4 separate regions of the Homo sapiens genome follow, and all the other regions are linked to region 3. Evidence: fine-mapped expression QTL. A gene starts in region 3. Each other region holds a variant in brackets. All regions are shown on one strand. Distances are between the middles of the regions.

What was found. PIP is the estimated chance that this variant, and not a neighbour inherited with it, causes the effect.
Region 1: its variant is the best candidate, but not a certain one, in a credible set for the expression of CNP in blood mononuclear cells (TOPMed, PIP 0.51).
Region 2: its variant is the best candidate, but not a certain one, in a credible set for the expression of CNP in whole blood (INTERVAL, PIP 0.54).
Region 4: its variant is the best candidate, but not a certain one, in a credible set for the expression of CNP in whole blood (INTERVAL, PIP 0.64).

The regions. Positions count from the first base shown.
Region 1 is chr17:41,937,943-41,942,099 of GRCh38, forward strand. It overlaps ODAD4 (outer dynein arm docking complex subunit 4), which reads left to right. Exons shown (of 12, transcript NM_031421.5): 6 at 615-839; 7 at 1,023-1,230. Among named protein-coding and RNA genes, the nearest start is that of ODAD4, 9.4 kb to the left of the region's middle. The variant G/A (reference allele first, on the strand shown) is at 2,278.
Region 2 is chr17:42,040,739-42,044,895 of GRCh38, forward strand. The region is part of intron 2 of ZNF385C (zinc finger protein 385C); the gene reads right to left. It overlaps C17orf113 (chromosome 17 open reading frame 113), which reads right to left. Exons shown (of 3, transcript NM_001358661.2): 2 at 2,096-2,825; 3 at 1-451. The coding sequence starts at 2,638. Among named protein-coding and RNA genes, the nearest start is that of C17orf113, 7.8 kb to the right of the region's middle. The variant G/GA (reference allele first, on the strand shown) is at 1,783.
Region 3 is chr17:41,965,067-41,969,223 of GRCh38, forward strand. CNP (2'',3''-cyclic nucleotide 3'' phosphodiesterase) reads left to right here and starts at 1,729. Exons shown (of 4, transcript NM_033133.5): 1 at 1,729-1,821; 2 at 3,002-3,674. The coding sequence starts at 1,819. ODAD4 (outer dynein arm docking complex subunit 4) reads left to right here. Exons shown (of 12, transcript NM_031421.5): 12 at 1-1,437. The coding sequence ends at 417. RefSeq lists enhancers at 1,002-1,101, 2,203-2,760, 2,761-3,318, 3,319-3,876 and silencers at 1,472-1,911, 2,042-2,231.
Region 4 is chr17:42,066,360-42,070,516 of GRCh38, forward strand. The region is part of intron 1 of ZNF385C (zinc finger protein 385C); the gene reads right to left. Among named protein-coding and RNA genes, the nearest start is that of C17orf113, 18 kb to the left of the region's middle. RefSeq lists a silencer at 892-1,186 and an enhancer at 1,662-2,162. The variant G/A (reference allele first, on the strand shown) is at 2,170.

The DNA of each region.
Region 1 (4,157 bases), 27 kb before region 3:
ATGTGTAGGGTTCCCTGTTCTGTGACACAGGAACAGCTTCACTGCTGGCACATCTCCTTAGCAACAGGCCTGAATGCCTCCTATTCTCCAGAGGACCCGCTGCGGAGGGAAGAGGTGGCTTGAATATTACCTCAAGTGGCCTTGTAGCTTTGCTTCTGGCTGTAACCTCTGGCCAGGCAGTGGGCAGGACTTGGGCACCCGCCTTCCAGCTTCCAGCATGCACAGGCCCACTGGGCACCTGGGAAATCACTGGGCACTGGCAGCCTGGGCCAGATCGTGCATTTAGACTCAGTGTTATCTGAGGACACAGCTTGAACTGGGGAAGCCCCGAGGCTTCTCAGCGAGCCATCCACCAGCTGCCCCTTCTGGCTAGCTCCTCATATCTTGCCATAAGGGGCCCATAGCATGGAACTCCCTGATAGTGGGGCTCTGGCTGCCTCCTGGCCTGGATAAACCCACTCTGCCACTATGCGCACTCACACTCCTCTCTGTTTCAACAACTCCAAGCAGAGCAAGTTCACAGAGGGCCCTGCAGCGGCCACCGGGAGGAAACAGGAGGCAAATCCCTTAGAGGCCTGTTCTCCTTGGCGCCTCCTCACACCCCTTCCCCACAGACCTGATCAAAGGCACCATGAAGGGCGGCCTGACTGTGGAGGACCTCATCATGACGGGCATCAACTACCTGGATACTCACAGCAACTTCTGGAGGCAGCAGAAGCCGATCTACGCCAGGGAGCGGGACCGGAAGCTGATGCAAGAGAAATGGCTGCGGGACCACAAACGCCGTCCCTCACAGACAGCCCATTACATCCTCAAGAGCCTGGAGGACATTGATATGTGTAGGTGTTGTTCTCAGAGGGTGGGGCAGGTGCCTCCAGTGCCTTATCAGGTGGGGAAGGAGCAACCAGGTGTCTGAGCCCCTGGTCTCTCAGACCTGCAGATGGTGTCTGCAGGAAGAGGAGTTACCCTGTCAGCTAAGAGGAGGCTGCCCTGGCCTCCACAGCACCCCTTTCCTTTCTCAGTGCTCACAAGTGGCAGTGCTGAAGGGAGTCTTCAGAAAGCTGAGAAAGTGCTGAAGAAGGTACTGGAATGGAACAAGGAAGAGGTACCCAACAAGGATGAACTGGTTGGAAACTTGTATAGCTGCATAGGGAATGCCCAGATTGAGCTGGGGCAGATGGAGGCAGCCCTGCAGAGCCACAGAAAGGACCTGGAGATCGCCAAGGAATAGTGAGTGCCCTAGGGGAGGCCACTGGCGTGAGCCTACGGAGAAGGACACCTGGGGCTATCTGAGGCCCTTGCCAGGGCTGCTGGTGGCTTGACTCCCATTTTCTGCTCTGCATGCCTGAGGTAGATTCTCCTGGAGGTGGGGACCACCTGCCCAGGACTGAGGGTGGGGGCACCTAGACTGTTAGCTTTTTTGCCACCAAAAGGGTAGTGGCTCAAAATTCCAAAAAGCTACCCAATGATCTGGCTCTTAGGGATGTTTATATTCTTACATCAGCTTAACGAGCATGCATGAAGCCCCAGACATGCCAGATGCTGCTAGTGTGGGAACACAGTAATAACCAGACACAAGGGCCATTTCCCTGCAGATGTCAAGCAAAAAGGGACATAGCTAATTAATTGCAATTGTGATAAGTGCCATGAAAGAAAAGTACAGGATCCAGTGTGGTGAGAAATACATTCCAGGAGGACTTGATGACATTGGGGAACACACAGGGCCTATGGAAAGGCCCTGAGACAGGAGGGTACTTAAGCCTGGAGAGCACAGCATATTGCCAGGGAGAGGGGCCAAGAGGAGGCTGAAGGAAGTGGGCAGGGGATGGATCAAGCAGGGTCTTTTAAAACCGGTGCTGATCAAGAGCACGGGCTGTGGAGTCAGGCAGACCTAGGCTGTGGAACTTGCACCGCCCAGCCGTGGAACCTGAGATAAGCCACTTTAGCTCCCTCAGCCTCAGGGTCTCCTCCTGTTAGCTGGGCACCCTGTAGGGCAGAAGGGAGGATGAAATACAGAAGTACCTGTGCAGACCTTAGGACAGTGCCTGGTATCCACAATAGTAGTAACACCAGCTCTCCAGAAATGAGATCTTCTCAAGACTTGCTGACTTCCACCCGGAGGTTCCATCGCTTTCTCAGCATCCTGGTTCTACCCTTTGGAGTCATTCTTGACTTCCTCCTGCCTGGTTTCTACCCATCTCACCAGTCTGAGCCTCCTTGATCTCCCATCATCCCATTTGCCCTCACAGTGCCCAGCCCTCAGCCGACCTGAGTCCT[G/A]CTGCTTCCCCTGCCTCTGCTGTCTCTCTCCAGCTCCTCCCACAAATCTCCAGAGACACATGCTATGAACTCTCCCTCCCCTGCTCACAAGTGGGCCTGGGCCCCTCACTGCCTGCAGGTTAAAGGTCAAGCCCCTTTGCTTGGCCCTCAGGCCCTCTCTAAACCCACCCTGGCCCTCTTATAGCAATCTTCCCTTGGGGTCAAACGTTCCTGAACATTCCTGCCTCCTGCCCTTTCCTCTTCACTGATCCAAGCCCCATATGCTTTCCATTCCCAGTTCATTTCTCGCCTGCCTCCACTGTGCTGAGCAGGAATATCCCATACTGGCCATCCCATATTAGAAAAAAATAGCTTTAGGGACAGACCTGTCTTCGATCCCTGTCTTCTAACTGGCTCTGCCACTTAGAAGCTGTGTGGATTTGATTAAGTTGCTCCTCTACTCAGTTTCCTCATCTCTAATGAAGGCATAATAATACCAACCCACAGGGACTGTGGGGATTAGATGTGATGTATATATATGGTACCTTGGATCCAACCATCTCCCATGCACAAATGAGTTAGAAATCTTTACTTCTCGCCAGACCTCTCTCCTGAGCCTCAGACCTGTGTGTCCAGCAGATTCTAAGACATTTCCATCTGGATGTCCCACAGGAATCCTAAACTTAACATGTCCAAATCGGAATCCCTTATCTTCCTCCCAAACTTACTTCTTGAGGGTTCCCCATCCCCGAGGATAGCACTGTTGGCCACTGAGTCCCAAGCCAGAAGACCGGAGGCTTCCCAGATACCTCCTTCCCCTCTCTGTTTTTGCCATATCGCTCAAGTTGGTCTGGATGACAGGCGTGAGCCACTGCGCTTGGCCCCCTCACTGTTCATGCCCAGCAATGGCCATGTCTTGTCCTGTCCATACTTTCTCTGTTTCCCTCCCACAACTCAGTCCAGACCATCCTTACTTCTTGCCTGTTTCCTCTGACCTGGGCTTCCTACAGTTCAGCTGTCCTTTCTCTGAAAAACAACTCCTGTGGTTGGGATGAAATTTCAATGCCCTGCTCAACACAGGTTGCCCTTCTTCACTTGACTTCTCCTGGCCTGTCTTGACCTGGCTTTCTCCAGGCCCCCAGGCATTCTGGGCCCCAGCCAGTGCAGAGCTCTGTGCATATCCTCCAGCCCCAGGAATGCTTTCCCTTTTCCCAGCACTTGCTTTATCAAGCTGCCGCCACCCATTCTTCAACATTTCAATAAAGGTTGAAAAGCCTGCCTCCTAGCCTGAGCGGTGGCTCACGCCTGTAATCCCAGCATTTTGGGAGGCCAAGGTGGGTGGATCACGAGGTCAGGAGATCGAGACCATCCTGGCTAACACGGTGAAACCCCATCTCTACTAAAAATACAAAAAAAATTAGCCGGGCGTAGTGTTAGCCGGGTGTGGTGGTGTGCGCCTGTAGTCCCAGCTACTTGGGAGGCTGAGGCAGGAGAATGGCGTGAACCCAGGAGGCGGAGCTTGCAGTGAGCCGAGATAGTGACTGGGCGACAGAGCGAGACTCCGTCTCAAAAAAAAAAAAAAAAAGAGAGAAAAGAAAAGCCTGCCTGCTGCCCCAGGGGTTACAAATCCCTCCCCTAGGCTCCCTCTCCACAGGTAGCCTTTCTGTCCTGTTAGACTTTGGACTTTGGAAGGTGCTATTCCCAGCATCTGCCACACAGTGGGCATGTAATGAATGTGTGCTAAGTGACTGAATAATTTGAGATGGAGTTTCACTCTTCTTGCCCAGGCTGGAGTGCAATGGAGTGATCTCGGCTCACTGCAACCTGCAACCTCCGCCTCCCTGGTTCAAGTGATTCTTCTGCCTCAGCCTCCCAAGTAGCTGGGATTATTGGCAGCCCGG
Region 2 (4,157 bases), 76 kb after region 3:
CCAAGTGGGAACTAGGGCCACCATGGAGGCGGAATAGGGCATCCAATATGCTCTCATATTGACCCAAGTAGGCCGGGGGCTCAGGATCTGTCCGGCCAGGGAGACAATGCAGCTCTGCCAGCAGTGGGCAAGTGGCCCGGAGCTGTGGGCCCACACTCCCCAGGCGCTCACTGGGGAGGCTTGAGCTGAGCCAGGCCAGCTTGGGTGCAGATACGCCGAAAGCCTGCAGGATGTCCAAGAGCTGGCCAGCAGTGGCCTCGCCCTCCTGTAGCTCCACACTGCCCAGGAAGGTGGTGGCGGGCTGGCCATCACAGGGGGACACTGAAGTGGCAAACAGGGCCAGGCTGTGTGACTCCGGCCAGTCTCTGGTCTCGTCCAACACCAGCCCCACATATGGGGATGCCTTCAGGCGCTGGCAGGCCTCTGTGTGCAAGACACTGGCAATGGCCACCTGGGACAGCCAGGGAAAGAAAGGGAGGGAGGACTGAGTTAGGCTTGTCCTGAGAGGCGGAGGCAGGCAGTGCGGGGTGGTGGAAAGAGCCCAGGCCTTGAGGTTAGACAGACTTAGGGACTAATCCTGGCTTTGCCACTTACTGGCTGTGCTACCTTCGGCCAGTCACTTCACCTCTCCGAGCCTCAGTTTTCTCATCTCTACAGCTCCTGGCCTGTCTAAGAATATCCTCCCACCCCGGCCTCCCACCACACCCGGTCTAGTTTTCTCAGCTCTTATACCTGCTGTCAGCTAATACCAGCCCGAAATCTTCTCAAAGCTTGTTGTGAATTATAAACATCAACTTTTGTTGTGGTAAAAGCACTTTATGAATCATAAAGAGCTCTAGGAAAGCTAGTTTTTTCACTGTGTTTTTCTATAGCATCATCCTAGTCTGCCCTATTCCTGGGGGTCTCCCTCCACTGTCCAGCTCAGTGATTAACTGATAGGCACACTCACTCCCAACTCCCAACCAGTCACCCTGGGTCCCAGCTGTGTGCTGTTTCTCTATTTGTCATCTCTGTAGGATGAGATCCAACTCCCCCACCTCCAACCCAGCCCATAGGACTTACACAGTTAGTACCTAGGACAGAGCTGCAATTTGCATGCTTCCAGGGGCCATGTGAGTGATATTGAGCTTGGAGAGGGCCAGGGATAAGCCAGAGGGAACACCCTGCTCTCCAACTCCAGCACATCCTGCTCTGAGAGCATGGGGACCTTGCTTTTCAACACAAGTCACAAATCTAGATTTTTATATGTAATCTCCTGAGTTTTTTAAAAGTTGAAACACATTCGAGTTTTTCAAAAACATTATGAAAACCAATTAAACAGGCTCAGCACAGAAAACAGCCCCAAAAGAAAACTAAGTCAAAAGTCATTTCCATTTCCATTCCAGCACTTTGCGGGGCCAAGGCAGGAGGATTGCTTGAGGCCAGGAGCCCAAGACCAGCCTGGGCAACATAATGAGACCCCATCTCTATGTTTAAAAAAAACCAAAAAACAAAAAACAGAGGCCAGGCGCGGTTGCTTACACCTATAATACCAGCACTTTGGAAGGCTGAGGTAGGCAGATCACCTGAGGTCAGGAGTTCGAAACTGGCCTGGCCAACATGGTGATACCCCGTCTCTACTAAAAATACAAAAATTAGCTGAGCGTGGTGGCACATGCCTATATTCCTAGCTAATAGGGAGGCTGAGGCAGGAGAATCACTTGAGCCAGGAAGGCAGAGGTTGCAGTGAGCTGAGATCACGCCACTGCTCTCCAGCCTGGGTGACAGAGTGAGATTCCTCAA[G/GA]AAAAAAAAAAAAAATTAAATACATCTGTGGGTCAATCAAGCCTCCAGGCCACCAGTTTGCAACGTCTGATTTAGGCAGTGAGAAGAGTGCCCCTGTGCCCGCTAAGAGGCCTGGTCTGGCCTCTTCACTGTTGTATCCCTGCAGCTGGCCCAGGACCAGGGACATAGGCTCTCAGGGAAGGTTCTGAAGGGTGAAGATATGAATGAAATGCCCTAGCTGCTCCCCAAGGAGCTGGCATGCTGGGGCTGTTCCCAGGTGGCTCAGTGTCCTCCCTTCCCAAGCCCTTCCCCCATACTTCTGGCTGTCACCCACCTGCATGTCCCTCACCCTCCTGGGACTGTAGTAATCGCCATGCTCTGTGCCCAGCAGTGCCTGGCACAGGTTGAACCTCTGCAGCTCGAGCAGGGCAGAGCAGCGGTCATTGGGCACATCCTCCTTTGCCATGCAGTACACAGTAGTCAGCACAGCCACTTTGGCCGGGTCTAACTCCACCTTGACGCCCCTGGAGGCAGGGGTCGTAGCCAGGCCTGGGCAGGCCCCTCCACCTTCAGCCTGGCCCTCAAAAGGGGGCTGGCCCTGGTTGACAGCCAGAGCCTGGCGGTGGGCTCCTGAGGTCACGTGGCGCAGCAGGGCGTGGCGCTGGAAGTTGTCTGTGCCCACAGTGAAGGCGTTTTCGGCTTTGCCATGCTTGTTCCGTACCAGGGCCTGGCGGCACTCGAGGCAGAACATCAGCTTCCGCTCATAGTCAAAGTCCAGCCAGGTAAACTCCTCTTTCCAGTGCTCGTTGAAGTAACGCTTACACTTCTTGTTGGAGTTGGAGGCCTCTCCCGCTGGTTTCTTCCCTGGGGGCACCATTCTTGCTCTCTCAGCAAGGAACCCCCAACCCCCACCTGAATGCTCTTGCCCCCCTGCCTCCCCCACACACAGGCACCTCCCTTGACAAGGAGAGTTGATGGGGAGGCAGGCTGGGGGCAGCCCGCCAGGCTAACAGGGCCCATCCATCTAAGCCTGGAGAGTTTATTCCTGCTCTGCCGGTGGGAGACTGGAGATGAAAGAGACAGGCAGAGGTGTTAGGGGTCTGTCATGGTAGGGGTGGTTTAGGGTGGAGTGGTAGGCTTCATGCTGCCCACAGAGTCCTCCCAGCTGAGGGGTGGAGGGACTCACTGGGGCAGGGGCTCTGGGCAGTGGGTGGAGTCATGCAAAGGGCCCTAGAGCATTATCCAAAGCAGGGGAGGTATGGGGACCCCAGCCCCCTCCCAGGGTCTCTTTCCACCCAGGACAAGGCACTAATTCGCTTTGACTGATGAAGCATCTCAGAACTGGAAAGGCTGGCATCACCTAGGCAACTGTATTTTATAAAGGGGAAACTGAGTCTGGAGACAGGTAGTGGTTCTCAGGGCCCATGAGGAGTTCATAGTGAACCAGGACTAAAACTCAGAACTCTCAACTCCTAGCCCAAAAGATGACTGTGCCCTTCAGCCCACAGTCATCTATTTCATCAGAAGGAAATCAGGCCAGGCATGGTGGCTCACTCCTATAATCCCAGCACTTTGGGAGGTGGCTCACTTAAGCCCAGGAGTTCAAGACCAGCCTGGGCAACATGGCAAAACCCCATCTCTAAAAAAAAAAAAAAAAAAAAAAATTAGCCAGGCATGGTGGTGCATGTCTAGTCCCAGCTACTGGGGAGGTTGAGGCAGGATTGCTTGAGCCTGGGAGGCAAAGGTTGCAGTGAGCCATGATGGCGCCACTGCATTCCAGACTGGGTAATAGAGCTAGACCCTGTCTCAAAAAAAAAAAAAAAAAAAAAAAAGACGGCCGGGTGGGGTGGCTCATGCCTGTAATCCCAGCACTTTGGGAGGCCGAGGCAGGCAGGTCACCTGAGGTCAGGAGTCCGAGACCAGCCTGACCAACATGGAGAAACCCCATCTCTACTAAAGGTAACAAAATTAGTTGGCATGGTGGCACATGCCTGTAATCCCAGCTACTCGGGAGGCTGAGGCAGGAGAATCGCTTGAACCCGGGAGGCGGAGGTTGCAGTGAGCCGAGATCACGCTATTGCACTCCAACCTGGGCAACAAGAGCAAAACTCTGTCTCAAAAAAAAAAAAAAGAAAGAAAAGAAATCAGCAGAAAGCTGATTCTTTCCAAGACACAGGAAGATTTGCTTTCTCTAAAGCTCCATTCCTTATACACACAGGTGAACACACACTCACACTCATACCCATTGGTACTGTGGTTCTGGGATGGGTAGCCCAGACCTGGGGCCTCAGACTGAAGGCAGCTAGCCAGTTGCCTCTACCTCCCTCACTCTGCCACCTCCCCAGGCACGAGGCCAGGATGAGCAGTTCAGGACTGAAAAGCCATGTCCAGCCATT
Region 3 (4,157 bases):
GTGGTGAAGCAGTGGGACCATAGTGAGGATGAGAAAGAGACAGATGAGGACGATGAGGCTTTTGGGGAAGCTCTGCAGAGCCCAGCAAGCGGAAAGCAGAGTGTGGAAGCAGGAAAAGCCAGAAGCGATTTGGGAGCAGTTGCCAAGGGCCTGTCAGGAGAATTAGGCACAAGATCAGGAGAAACAGGCAGGAAGCTACTAGAAGCTGGCAGAAGAGAGTCAAGAGAAATTTATAGGAGGCCTTCGGGAGAATTAGAGCAAAGACTCTCAGGAGAATTCAGCAGACAGGAACCAGAAGAACTAAAGAAACTTTCAGAAGTGGGCAGAAGAGAGCCAGAAGAACTGGGAAAAACACAATTTGGAGAAATAGGAGAAACGAAAAAAACAGGAAATGAGATGGAAAAGGAATATGAATGAAGCCATCGGTAGAGATGAGGATCAGGAAGCTGGTGTTCAGAGGGATCATGGGATTTTATTAAACTGGATTTTCAAGCGATTTGTCTGTTATAGGAAAAATGAGGGTTTTACTTCTGCTGCTTTCCATCACTATTTTGCCATTAAATAGGTGTCTTTCACTCTTGCAAACCCTGAGTCTGTCACTTTGCCTCTTCACCCCTGCCCATTCTTGGAAGAGCATCGTGGAAGAAATGAGAAAGGTGCCAAGAAGAAAGGGTTTCAGGAGGGTGAAGATACGGGCGCTACAGGGAACAAGAAGTCACAGGGAGGAGAGGGGAAGGCCTGGGAGGAGAGGTGCTTCCCACACACCGGTGACTGACTGAGTCCCTCCAGTGCGCAGGACAGCGGGGAGGCTTTATGGATGGAACAGTGGTGGGGCGGCCCCAGCTGTCACAGGTAGGAGAATGCCGCAAGCCAGAACCAAGCGAATGCTGGGAGTGAGGCCAAAGATAGGGGAGTGGCCTGGGAGTCGGGAGGGCAGACAGACTCCGCCTCTGACACCTCTGGGTGGCATAATCAGGTAAATCAGGCTCTCCAAGCTGGCTTCTCCTCTGAACAATGGGATACCTGCCTCAGGGGTTGCTGCGAGGACTGAGTGCTTAGCACAGCACTTGGACAGGAAACTCAAAAATCCAACGGAGCTCTCAGTGGTTTCACAGAGGAGGTGGCAGCTGAGGATCTGGCCTCAGAGGATGTTAGGATTTCACTCCGTTACTCATCTGTCCCTTTGGCCATTGCCATCCTGGTCTGTCTCCACAGCTCCTAGAAGGAAAGGTCGGGGCTGAGACTGACTTTCGGCTGGCACAGGGCCTGGACGAATGAGGCCAGTGAGGCATTTCAGATGCAGAGTTTACCGGAATGCCAGCAAATTGCATGATAATATTTTAATCCAATGTGGTAAAAAAAAAAGTTTTTAATTAATGCAAAAGTCCATGATGAATAAAATATCAAAAATTAAAGACAGGATCCGACTTTGCACGACCCTGCCTCACTCACTTCCTGCTAATCCACGGGACCGGGGAGGGTGACTGAGTTACCCCTCAACACGCAGAAAAAGCTAGTGGCCGCTCAGCTCGCAGGCGCAGTGGGTGGGTGCGCGTGGGGAGCAGGCGCGCGCAGGGGGCGGGACCGGGCCGAGGTTCCCGCGCGCGGCGAGAGTTTCGGGTTTTGGTTCGCAGCGCCTGCGCGCAGAGGAGACGGCCCGCCCCCAGCCCGCCCGGGTGCCCGCTCCGCCCCCCGGGCTATGTAAAGCGGCCGGGCTCGGGTCGTGCCACCGCTGGACTCCCGTGTCCCTCCGCGCAGGCGGGCGGCCCCGGAGCGCTGGTGCCGGCAGAGGCGGCGACGGTGGCGCCCCTCCTCATCATGGTGAGAGGCCGGGCGGGGCCGGGCACGGGGTAGCACCAGGGCGGGAAACGAGTGTCGGGGCCCCTCGGGAGGAAGCGTCTTGCAAACGAGGACCCGGGGCTCCGGGTTCGACTTCCAGTTTTCTTGGTACTCAGGGCGGCCCTGAGGTCTGGGAGAAGCGGAGGGGTTTTGGGGTGCCGGAGAGGCCGCTGTAAAGGGAAACGGTGGTGTTTCTCAGGAGGGAACTCGGGACCGCAGAAGCTGCTGCGCCTCTGGGAGCCTGGGTGGGCCTGGGCCGGGAGCCCGGGAGCTGCTCCCGACCCCACGCAGGCCCGCGCTGGGGCAGCCGCTTCGGCGCCCCCTCCCCGGGCCCAGTCTCATCACGCGGAACCGCTGCCCCGCGCCCGGGTGCGGGCGGGAGGTGGAGCCAGTTCAGAGGAGGGGACCCTTTACGGTAAAAGCTGCCGTCCCTTGTGGCTTCTAGAAGATAGGAAAACAAGTGGCTCCGAGAGGCGCTTCTGACACACAGCACAGCGGCGGGTAGAGCTGGATCCTAATTGCAGGTGCCCTGTGCTGCCCTGTTCTGGACAGGCACAAAGACCACGACTTTGTGGGGGCCGGGAGAGGGTAGAGGAGGAGGTGGCAGGCTTGGTGAAAGAGGGCCTTTGTCCAGTGCTCTCCTGCCCTGCCCCCCACCAGCCCTTCTGTGGGACCATTGTACCCGCATGCCAGACAAGAGAGTATTATCTGTTGCGGCCATTGTTGGGGGAAGGGAGGCAGTCTTGGGGTAACCCTTCTCCACTCCCCCCCTTCTCTGTGCACTCAGCCGTGGCAGCTGTGGCTTGGCCCAGACACAGAGACCCCCACCTCCAAAGAGGACGTCCTTAGTAGGTGCCAAGCATATAAGAGTGAGGCCAGTCCCAGAACCGCAGGCTCCTGGCGCGCCCCGCATGCCTCCAGCACGTTTACCTTTCCGAAGTGGCAGGAATGGGGAAAGCGCACGCTTAGGAGAGCTTCAGACAAGCTTCCCTCTTCCTCCTCCACGACCAGAAGCGGAAAGGTGCTCCCGGACCGAAAGGGAAAGAAGGTCCAGCACTGCCCCGCTTGGGAAGGCACCCACAACCAGTCTAGGGACTAGGGGTAAGGCCGGCGGGGAGCCCGCGAATGACCTGGGCTGACATCTCTTCCCCTCCTTACACAGAACAGAGGCTTCTCCCGAAAAAGCCACACATTCCTGCCCAAGATCTTCTTCCGCAAGATGTCATCCTCAGGGGCCAAGGACAAGCCTGAGCTGCAGTTTCCCTTCCTTCAGGATGAGGACACAGTGGCCACGCTGCTAGAGTGCAAGACGCTCTTCATCTTGCGCGGCCTGCCAGGAAGCGGCAAGTCCACGCTGGCACGGGTCATCGTGGACAAGTACCGTGATGGCACCAAGATGGTGTCGGCTGACGCTTACAAGATCACCCCCGGCGCTCGAGGAGCCTTCTCCGAGGAGTACAAGCGGCTCGATGAGGACCTGGCTGCCTACTGCCGCCGCCGGGACATCAGAATTCTTGTGCTTGATGACACCAACCACGAACGGGAACGGCTGGAGCAGCTCTTTGAAATGGCCGACCAGTACCAGTACCAGGTGGTGCTGGTGGAGCCCAAGACGGCGTGGCGGCTGGACTGTGCCCAGCTCAAGGAGAAGAACCAGTGGCAGCTGTCGGCTGATGACCTGAAGAAGCTGAAGCCTGGGCTGGAGAAGGACTTCCTGCCGCTCTACTTCGGCTGGTTCCTGACCAAGAAGAGCTCTGAGACCCTCCGCAAAGCCGGCCAGGTCTTCCTGGAAGAGCTGGGGAACCACAAGGCCTTCAAGAAGGAGCTGCGACAATGTAGGTGGCAGGTTGGGGCCTTATAAGCCCACCTTGCTGGGCACAGGGTGCTGCGGGCAAAGGACCATCATTGTACTCAAAGGATGGAGCACGAAGCAGCAGGAGGCAGAGAGAGGCTCACCTCAGCGGGGGCAGGGGCAAGCGGTGCGTCCCAGTGGTAGCCTTGGGGAGTTGGCAGCACATTGGGAACACGGGGGCTTCCCAGAGCGCCTTTCCTCCCACCACACCTATCCTTCTAGCCCTCTTCTCTCCGACACCCTTTTCCCAGCCTGAATGTAGACCACTGTCCCTTGTCTTGGAGGTGGGAAAAACAAATTACTGTAGTAACAGGAAACATGTCCTCTTCTAATGTAACCTTAGAGGGGGAATCAAGCCCAGTGTTTTCCAACGCATTTTTAGCAGCAGAATCATGTTCCAAAAAATAATAATAATAATCACATGAAATTGTAAGCTGCAAAAAAATTAAAACTAGGACTATTGTGG
Region 4 (4,157 bases), 100 kb after region 3:
ATCAGCTGTTATTAACACATAGTGTGTCTGTCTCTTGCAGCTTGTGAGTGAAGTCTGTCACCCTGTGTGTCTGTCATGATGTACCTGGGTCACTGCAAATGTCTGTTACCCCATCGTTTGTTGAGGTGAATCTATGTCACTCACTCTGTGTGCATGTCGTAGTGTAGCTGTGCCATAGTGTGGGTGTCATTGTGCCCAGACCATGAAATGAGACTGTCACTGAACATCTGAGACTCACTATGTGATATTGGTTGAATTATGTCCCCCAAAATTCAATATGTTGACATCCTAATCCCCAGCACTTCCAGAATATGACCTTATTTGGAAATAGGGTCGTTGCAGATGCTATTAAGATAAGGCCAGACTGGTATAGGGTGGGCCCGTAATCCAATATACATGACTGGTGTCCTTATGAAAAGGTGAAATTGACTGGGCGCAGTGGCTCACGCCTGTAATCCCAGCACTTTGGGAGGCCGAGGTGGGTGGATCACGAGATCAGGAGTTCAAGACCAGCCTGGCCAACATGGTGAAACTCTGTCTCCACTAAAAATACAAAAAAATTAGCCAGGCGCGGTGGTGGGTGCCTGTAATCCCAGGTACTCAGGAGGCTGAGGCAAGAGAATTGCTTGAACCTGGGAGGCAGAGGTTGCAGTGAGTCGAGATCGTGCCATGGCACTCAAGCCTAGGTAACAGAGCAAGACTCCGTCTCAGAAAAAAAAAAAAGAGAGAGAGACAGGGTCTTGCTCTGTTGCCCAGGCTGAAGTGGAGCAGTGTGATCATAGCTCACTGTAACCTCAAACACTTGGGCTGAATAGATCCTCCAGCCTCGGGCTCCCAAAGTGCTGGGATCACAGTTATGAGCCACTGCGCCCAGCCTTGCTGACACATATTGATCTTGGACTTTTAGGATCCAGAACTGAGACAATAAACTTCTACTGTTTAAGTGCCACCCAGCCTGTGGCACTTTGTTATGGGAGCCCTAACAAACTAACGCGCCATAGATCTCACCCTGGTGTGGTCATAAGTGCTTGGTGATTTGATGGTCCAAACCCTGCTGCTAGGGTTTGGATGTTGTGGCTGGGCGGCAGTCCCACAGATAGCCTCCAGGTGGCGCAGCAAACATCCAGTGGGAAGGTAGGTGAAGACTCCGTACCCCCTGGGCATGACAGACCCCAGTCCCCACACTCAAGGGGCAATGCAGCTGTCTCCTGGAGCCACACCACGGGTCCAGGGTATAGCTCTTCCCACAGAGGGCACACTGGAGGTCACTGCCATTGTGAGAAGGCCCCATTACTGCATGGAGCCCCCCACCAATATTTTGCACCTTCTCACCTCTAGATGGAGGTCATCACAGCGACTCTCCTGCCTCTCCATGTCCTCCCCAACTCTCCCAGCAGGAGGAGGCAGGAAGAAGGTCTTAGGTGCAAGTGTTGGTGGGGGGAGAGGTCCCATTCCCCGGGTGGAGGCTTCAGAGGAATGAGATTTTCCTGGCCATGCCAAGGAGAGCTGCCTGCCCCGCCAGCATGGGGACAGGGGTATTTTGAAATCTCAGTGCAATTTATGACAGGCGGGCCGGGGACATCGCCCAAGAGAGCAAATATCTGCCACACAGCTGATTAAACCTCTGTGATATATAGCCTCTGGGCTCACGGGGCCGCCTGGATTCTGGGCTAATTGTGTTCCCCCCAGCCAGGCTGCTGGGCCTGCTGCAGCCTGCCCTGCCTGACCCAGCCTTCCCAGCTGTTCCCTTAGGAGCCACACTGCCCCAGCTAAGCTAGGGGAGCCCAGTCAGAAAGTGTGGACGGGTGGGCAGTGACGGGGGCACACAGGTCTGTCTAACCCTGCCCTGAGCATCGGCAGCTCGGCATCCCCAACCCTGGCCCCTACTCAGAGCCAGCATGACCCACGCTAGCAGGACCTACACTTGGACAGGACCTAGTCCACATGCTGCCTTAAGCAGATGGGGAAACTGAGTTCCAGAGCAGGGCAGTGGACTTGCTTCAAAGCAAATGGAAAGACGATGCATGAGCTGATTATAGAGGCTTCCCTGTCTTTCTCTTCGCCCCCCAGCTGCTTACGTCACATCTTCTTTATGAAATAACAACCCCATTTATTGAGGGCTTACTGTGGGCCAGGTGTTTGACAAAAAGGGTCTTTTTTCTTTTTTGG[G/A]GGGGATAGGGTTTGACTACGTTTCCCAGGCTCCAGGCTGGCCTCAAACTTGTAGGGATCAAGTGAACCTCCTGCCCCAGCCTCCCAAGTAGCTGGGATTACCGGCATGTGCCACCATGCCCAAACAGGATCTCTCTTAAACTTCACAATTCCATGAGATGAGCACCATTATTAACCTGTTATCCCACTGCATAGATTAGAGAACAGGCTTTGGGAGGTTCTGTGGCTGGACCTGGACCTATGCTTGTCTGACTCAAAGCCCAAGTCCTTACCCACTGCCCCATCCCACCTCTCCTTAAAGCCTGCCAAATCCTGACCTGAACTGATGGGTGGGGAGGGGGCCACAGATTCAGAGAAGGGCTCTGGGGAGGGGCAGGGTTGTGCAGCCTCTATCAGGCCCTGTGCCTCGCAGAGACGGGCTACACCCTGGGTAGAAAGAGGTGGGGCCAGAGCCAAAGAGGTGGGGAGGAAGGACAAGGGGAAAGCAGAGAAAAAGCGTGTATGTACCCATCCATCTGTCTGTCTGTCTGTCTGGGATTTCTACAGGAAGCTGGTTAAATCTCCCTCTGTTCCCTGTCTTCCCTGAGAGATGGGCTGAGGCTGCTGCAGAGAGGGTAGGGGTTGGGCCCTGGGAGGGAGCCACCCACTTGGAGGCAGGCTCACACTACCTGTGCTGGAGAGCTGTGTAGCCCAGTTTCTGTCTGCCTGTCTGCCTGTGTGTCCATCAATGTGGAGCTGGGGGGTGGGTTGGGGGGAGCACGCAGGCAGGGCTCTGGGGTCCCATCTCCACCACTTCTGGTTGGGTGACAAATGCACGTGAGGTCCCTGGGTTTCCATGGGGTCCTTGGCCACCGTGAGGTGATGAGATTCCCTGCCTGTCCATCCAGAGAGGGCTGAATGGAGGGGACTGTGGAGGCCAGAAAACAGGCAGCAGACGGTTGTTTCTGCTGCAGCCTGGGAAAGGAGTCCTCCAGAAAAGGCTGCTTCTCCTAAAGAGGTAACCGGAGAGGAAGGTTCGAGACCTGTCCCCAGCCTTTGGCAGAGCATGAAGGGTTCCCTCCTCAAACCCTTAACAAGCCCAGTTACCCTCTGGCATTTTCCTCCATGTCAGCCAACAGCCACCCTCCCGCCTCCCCAGCCTACTTCCCAGACCAGGCCAGGCTGGCTGGCCGGCCAAACTTGGGCCAGACCCTGCCTCGCTGGGCTTTGGTTTCCTGTCTTTAAAGAGAGGGGGCCAGGCGTGGTGGCTCTTGCCTGTAATCCCAGCACTTTGGGAGGCCAAGGCAGGTGGATCACCTGAGGCTGGGAGTTTGAGACCAGCCTGGCCAACATGGTGAAACCCCGTCTCTACTAAAGATACAAAAATTAGCCAACATGGTGGTGAGTGCCTGTAATCCCAACTACTCGGGAGGCTGAGGCAGGAGAATTGCTTGAACCTGGGAGGCAGAGGTTGCAATGAGCCGAGATTGCACCACTGCACTCCAGCCCCAGAGACAATGAAACTCCGTCTCAAAAAAATAAATAAGTAAAAAATAGCAGGGCGCGGTGGCTCACGCCTGTAATCCCAGCACTTTGGGAGGCCGAGGCGGGCGGATCATGAGGTCAGGAGATCGAGACCATCCTGGCTAACACGATGAAACCCCATCTCTACCAAAAATACAAAAAAATTAGCCAGGCGTGGTGGCAGGTGCCTGTAGTCCCACTACTCAGGAGGCTGAGGCAGGAGAATGGCGTGAACCCGGGAGGCGGAGCTTGCAGTGAGCCGAGATCGCGCCACTGCACTCCAGCCTGTGCGACAGAGCGAGACTCCATCTCAAAAAAGTAAAAAATAAAATAAAATAGATAAGAGAGGGGATTGGGCTCCTAGGTCCTTTGCAGGCTGAATTGCAGTGGCCACACAGAGCCGCTACTGCTAAGGTGGAAGGCAGTGGAGGCCAAGGTATATGATTCTGCCTTAGCCTGGGAGAAAGGCAGGGTGGGTGCACCTG